Homo sapiens: one gene and its partner. The protein of the gene in region 1 interacts with the protein of each later gene in a pairwise test. Each region holds a gene or a part of one and is shown on either strand. Other genes may lie near its edges.

The links.
Region 2: the proteins of MAPK10 (region 1) and KIF26A interact in a two-hybrid assay, tested with the Homo sapiens proteins (one large-scale study listed by BioGRID and IntAct).

Annotation. Positions count from the first base shown.
Region 1 is NC_000004.12:86,097,885-86,101,704, reverse strand, and holds part of MAPK10 (mitogen-activated protein kinase 10), read left to right. Parts: intron 1-487; coding exon 488-653; intron 654-2,419; coding exon of another isoform or gene 2,420-2,571; exon of another isoform or gene 2,572-3,103; intron 3,104-3,109; coding exon 3,110-3,181; intron 3,182-3,256; coding exon of another isoform or gene 3,257-3,264; exon of another isoform or gene 3,265-3,820. UniProt on the Homo sapiens protein: Serine/threonine-protein kinase involved in various processes such as neuronal proliferation, differentiation, migration and programmed cell death.
Region 2 is NC_000014.9:104,176,353-104,179,076, forward strand, and holds part of KIF26A (kinesin-like protein KIF26A), read left to right. Parts: coding exon 1-1,546; intron 1,547-2,197; coding exon 2,198-2,403; intron 2,404-2,724.

The DNA of each region.
Region 1 (3,820 bases):
TGTTATGTTTTGGCTCATTGAGATGCAGCTTCTTAGAAGCCTCATGCTTTCAGCTCCTTGATTGGCAGAAGTCATATGTGCAACTGAAATAAGAAAATTCATTTCCATAGATGTTTCTGGCAGCATAAAGACAGCTTCCCTGATCTGTTCTTCTGTCAGGCCTAGAAATGATATATATGTTGAAAGATTTATGTTGTCCTAAGGAGAAACCTAACAGAAGACAATAAATATTTTTTTTTCTAAAACCTCTTCCCAAGATTAGTGTAAATTGTGAAAATGATAATACAATTCTTTTCTGGGATTAAAACACTTTCCAAAAACTAATAGTTAACTTATTTGTAGCAGTAATCATTTGCCTTATTTAGAGCTCTGTAGGCAAGGGGGACCTCATCAGTGCTACTGCAAAATGGCTATGTTGATTGAGTCAATGGAAATAACATTTCACTTGATACTGGCTTTTAATTTTTTCCCTTATCCTTACTGTTAGGATTTAAAACCAAGTAACATTGTAGTCAAGTCTGATTGCACATTGAAAATCCTGGACTTTGGACTGGCCAGGACAGCAGGCACAAGCTTCATGATGACTCCATATGTGGTGACACGTTATTACAGAGCCCCTGAGGTCATCCTGGGGATGGGCTACAAGGAGAACGGTAGGGATGCTTCGGGAGAGCAGCATCAAAACCATGAATGAAACGGGTGCACGTTGTAGATAGCCAAGGGGAATGTTCTCTTTTATGTACATGCTTTTATAAAGTAGGGCTGCCAGATAGCATATTCAGGGTTTTTTTTAATACTACTGGTAAGAAACACTCATTAAAAATGTGAAGGATGTTATTGAGAAGTCAGTTTTGCTAGAAGAGCACTAAATGTTAATAGTGAAAAAGAATTGTAAATGGAGTCTGATTAAACAGTCAAGCGGATGCTGATTAGCACACGTGCCTAGATATTGAGAAAAATTGCTATTTGGGTTGCAGCTCAGCTGAGCATGAGTGTGAAAGCAGAAAGGAATCTACCACAGTTAGCCATGTGGCTTTTATGTTGTATCTCAGACTGATGGCTGTAGTTCTAGAAAAAGACAAGCAAAAAAGTGACACAAATCCTTAGAGTGAAAATCTTCATAGACAACTTTGAAATAATCCAAATTATTTAAACTGAATAAGAATTTCTGTAATAATTTAAGCTGCTCTGTAAGAAACATTTAGAGTAGCAATTGCCTAATAAATCCTTATATATTCCAAAAATCGTAAAAAAGGAAAATGTCAAATTTGACACTACTGCTTTCATAAAGAAAACTTAATGTTCATGAACACTTTAAAATGAAGGCTATGGAAGGAATCTTAAAAATGTATCACAATTGAGTGTAGTTGATTAAAACTAAGGATTTATTAAATATGTTAGAAAGCATTGCAATGTATTATTTTGATGAGACTATATCTTACAAGTAATGCACCATATTGAAAACATATTCAATATACTTAGGAATTAAAATAGTTTTAAATTAGGATTGTATATGTATTCAGTGTATCTTTAATATTTATTTTTATATTCTATTCTATTTAGTTTTTAGCAGTCTGTATTAATAAGTTTTATAAAAATAATCAGTGTATTTTTATGTACAGGTGCTACAGGGTACTTTTGTGAAAATTCCCTGGCCACTGAAGTTTACAGAAACTTCTTTGTATACTCTTAGATTAGAAGACAGATAATGTATGTATGCATTTATACAGAGGAAGTTAAAAAGTCACCTCTTACAAAGGTCAGGTTCACCCTGGTGGGCAATATCGGAGTTCTGGTACCTTTTGACTCAGAAGAGATGAATCTAGCCCTCCTTGCTAGGCAATACCACATCTAATTTATTCAGAAAAGAAGACATTTTTATACTTTCTTCACGAGTTATTTTTAAAAAGTCAAAGGAGAAACAAAGTCAAGAATCAAGAATGTACAGGAGACTGGGGGGTGGGGCGGTCTGAATTTGCCTATTTGGGCTTTCAGATCTTGGCACTACCAATAGCTGGTATTAAAATCCCTTTCCCTTCCCTCACTAGAAGGAATTGCAAGTTGCTGCCTTAGGTTTTTGACTTCTCTAAGTCCATGGAGGAGGCCTGCCTAGCACCCTGGTGCTGCCCTCCCACCAATGGGAGGAAGGTTATCATGCAGAAAAACCTGCTTGCTCCCACATCAGGCATGCCCTGCTGTCCCCTGCACCTAGCCCCGCCTTCCTTCCCCATGGAACAATTCGGCCAAATGATTCTGCCCAAAAGTTCCCTTTGTCCATAATGAAAAGCAAGTTGGAAAGGGGTAAAGATTGGTAAGAGAAGGCAAAGCATGTTTTCCTAACAAGTTTGACAATTTGGAAATAAATATATGTACATAACAATTTTTAACACCTTTAATACTTTTTTCACTTTCCTTCCAGATGACTCCTTTATACATGTGCTAATTCATCATATGTCTTTTTTCTTGAAATATTTCAAATGGAAACTAAAACTGATGTTTATTTACAAGAATAAACTTCTGAAGGAAAAGCTAAGTCCCAAATACCAGGAATTCCAATTCTTTTGCCTCTAAACCATGGTTCCAGTCATTTCCTGGTTTATTGGATTTGGTTGAATTTATCTTGTTTTGCCCCGGCCCCCTGGCCCCCTGAAAAAAAAGGTGGTCTCTTGTTGCCCTATTCTCTGTAACTGAATAGAATAGAAAATGAAAATAGCCAACTCTACAAGTTAATATTGTTTTCTATGCATCCGGAAAATGACACAGAAAACCCTTTGGTGGCTTTTAGCTGTCACCTGCCATGGAGATACTTTTGGTTTAGCTATTGCTTTTCTCAGTCACCAATGTCACCACTTTGTGGCACTGCTGAGAGGCAATGTAAGGCACCCACAAAGTAATGGGTTTTTAAACATTAATTTGAGTTCTCATACTAAACACTGTTTATGTAATAGCATAGCGCTGGTTTGAATTCACATTTTGGCCAACTTTTGGTGGGAGGTGAAAATTGTACTTTTAATCAAACTGTTCTTTTTCCTCCTCCTTCAGAAGTCAATTATCTTAGTTAACTTTACTTTCCTCCCTTTTCTTCACTACCCTCTCTCTCCTGTTCTAGTGGATATATGGTCTGTGGGATGCATTATGGGAGAAATGGTTCGCCACAAAATCCTCTTTCCAGGAAGGGACTGTATCCTTGTACCTTTTGCTACAGCTTTACCTGTTTTGTTCTCTCTCCCTTTTAAACACATAATGATTTTACCAGGAGAGTAAAGATAGAAGCAAAAAGTTGGGTAAGTGGTGTTATTGTAATAAAAAAGTGATAATTTCTATAATCTGACCAGTACTGAAGACTGCCTACCACAATGATTTCTTTTAATTAAATTTCAATGGGCTTTTTTCTTCTAAAATTACTTTCTTGCCTGCAACTAAAAATAGAAATGCTATTTTTCTTTAATAACAAAGGCTACCAGATCCCAAATGATTAAAATATATTTACCTTTATAACTAGCAAAATAAGTCACTATTTGCAAGTCATTTTCCATCTCCTTTCTAAAACTATTTTGTGCTTCTACAATATTTAGGCATAATAATTGCTCTCCTTGCTGACATTCTAAGCTTCTGTCTATGGCTTTGTTGATTTAAATTACTCGACACTAAATCAAGTCTTTAACAGGTCAATATAGCATATCTTCCTCAAAACATGAACTTCTGCATTTAAAAATTGTAATTATTGTTCAAGTTGCTAGTGGTCAGGTGAGTTTAATGTAGACTTCTCTCACCTGACTTGGAGATGTGACATAGACATACATGCTTGTTTTCCCAACTA
Region 2 (2,724 bases), on another chromosome or scaffold:
GGCAGGGAGCCCCAGGCCGGGCCCTCGCGGTGGGCATCCGCAGCCCAGACCATCCACTCCAGCCTCCCCCGGAAACCGAGGACTGCCTCTGCCACCACCCGTGTGGGCTGTGCTCGCCTGGGCCAGAGCCCACCTGGCCGTGGAGGCCTGTTTGAGGACCCATGGCTGCTCCGGGTAGGGGAGTGTGATACCCAGGCAGCTTCTGCTGGCAGGGCCCCCAGCCCCACACTTGGCTCCCCCCGGCTGCCTGAGGCCCAGGTGATGCTAGCCTGTGCCCAGAGAGTGGTGGACGGGTGTGAGGTGGCAGCCAGGGCGGCCCGCAGGCCAGAGGCTGTGGCTCGGATCCCACCGCTGCGGAGGGGTGCCACCACGCTGGGTGTGACAACGCCAGCTGTGTCCTGGGGAGATGCTCCCACGGAGGTGGTGGCCTGCTCGGGGAGCCTGAAGGCCTCCCCCACCAGCAAGAAGGGTCTGGCTCCCAAGGCGGGCTTCCTCCCGAGGCCCAGTGGGGCGGCCCCCCCGGCCCCACCCACGCGGAAGTCCAGCCTGGAGCAGAGGAGCAGCCCGGCCTCGGCCCCTCCGCATGCTGTGAACCCGGCGCGGGTCGGGGCTGCTGCTGTCCTTCGAGGGGAGGAGGAGCCCAGACCCAGCAGCCGGGCTGACCACTCTGTCCCCAGGGCCACGTCCAGCCTGAAGGCCCGGGCCAGCAAGGTAGAAGCAGCACACCGTCTTGCCGGACACGCGTCTCTGGAGCGGTACGAAGGCCTGGCGCACAGCAGCAGCAAGGGCCGGGAAGCCCCTGGGCGGCCTCCCCGGGCTGTACCCAAGCTGGGTGTGCCACCCTCCAGCCCCACACACGGTCCAGCTCCCGCCTGTAGGAGCGGCGCAGCCAAGGCTGTGGGGGCCCCCAAGCCCCCTGTTGGTGGAGGCAAGGGCCGTGGCCTAGTGGCTGGTGGGTCGCGGGCTCTGGGGCCTTCGGTGAAGCTGTCTACGGCCTCTGTGACGGGCAGGAGCCCTGGCGGCCCTGTGGCCGGTCCCAGAGCAGCCCCACGGGCCGGGCCCAGTGTCGGGGCGAAGGCTGGCCGGGGTACCGTCATGGGCACAAAGCAGGCGCTCCGGGCTGCTCACAGCCGCGTCCATGAGCTGTCAGCCAGTGGAGCCCCGGGCCGAGGTGGCTCCTCGTGGGGCTCGGCGGACTCAGACAGCGGCCATGACAGCGGCGTGAACGTGGGGGAGGAGCGGCCACCCACGGGCCCGGCCCTGCCCTCCCCCTACAGCAAGGTGACCGCCCCACGGCGGCCCCAGCGCTACAGCAGCGGCCATGGCAGCGACAACAGCAGCGTGCTGAGTGGAGAGCTGCCGCCCGCCATGGGCCGCACCGCCCTTTTCCACCACAGCGGTGGCAGCAGTGGCTATGAGAGCCTGCGGCGCGACAGCGAGGCCACCGGCAGCGCCTCCTCCGCCCCTGACTCCATGAGCGAGAGTGGGGCTGCCTCCCCAGGCGCCCGCACCCGCAGCCTCAAGTCCCCCAAGAAGAGGGCCACAGGTGGGTGCAGAGGTGCACAGCCCTCTACAGTTTACGGGCTTTCTGTGTGTAGATGTGCACAGCCCTCTACAGTTTACAGGGCCAGGAGATGCTGGACAGATGGGCACAGCCTTCAAGGTCCCAGACCCACACAGCCGTGGACGGTTTACAGACTCGCCTGGGGCTTTTTGTGTGTGGAGGTGCACGGCCCTCTGCAGTTTATAAACCCCCTGTACTTGCCCTTCTCTGGCCCCACCCTGCCCTGGGGGGCTGATCCTGGTCTGTGTCTGGGTGAGCACAAGGGCAGCCCTGCACAGGTCGCCAGGCTGGGGCACTGGACTCGGGTTTGGGTCCCGGGCCTCGTGCCTCCCTGGCGAGTGTCGAGCTGCCTGGAAGGCCCCCGCCAGGGCTGCCCCAAGGGACAGAACTGCTCAGGTCATGGCAGGGAAAGTGGGAGGCCCTGGTGGTGGTGGGGGCGCCCTTGAGAGCTGTGGGCCTGGCTTGGGGTCGGCTTCCTCCCTGCCCTGGGCAGAGCGCCAGCCTGAGGATTCCTGGACTGGATCCCGAAGGCCTCCCTGTCAGGACTCGGGCCGGCTCCGCAGCGTCCCCGCAGGGGCTGTGCTTGGGCTGGGCCCCGCCTCTGTTCACCCTGTGCCCGGCTCTCCGTTCCAGGTCTGCAGCGGCGGCGCCTGATTCCCGCCCCACTGCCCGACACCACTGCCCTGGGCCGTAAGCCCAGCCTCCCCGGGCAGTGGGTGGACCTGCCCCCGCCCCTGGCTGGCTCCCTGAAGGAGCCGTTCGAGATCAAGGTGTACGAGATCGATGACGTGGAGCGCCTTCAGCGGCCCCGCCCCACCCCGAGGGAGGCCCCCACCCAGGTAGGGCCTTTGGTGGGCTGGGGTCTATGACCCCTGGTGGGGAGCCTGCCGCGGATGGCAGAGTGAGCCATTTGATGGGCTCGCCAGGCCTCTGGGGGTGTGGCTGGGCAGCCCCTGACCTCACTTTCTGTCCACGTTCCTCCCAGGACGCAAAGGTAGGAGCGGCCCTGCCCAGCCCAAGCCTGTTGCAGCTCCGACACTCCCCTTGGGCAGTGGGTGGGTGGCTGGGGGGTCCTGAGGCCACTGCTGCTGTCCGCTGGAATTCTCCCCTGTCGTGGGGAGGGTGGTCCTAGAGCCGAGCCAGGACCCAGACGGGCATGG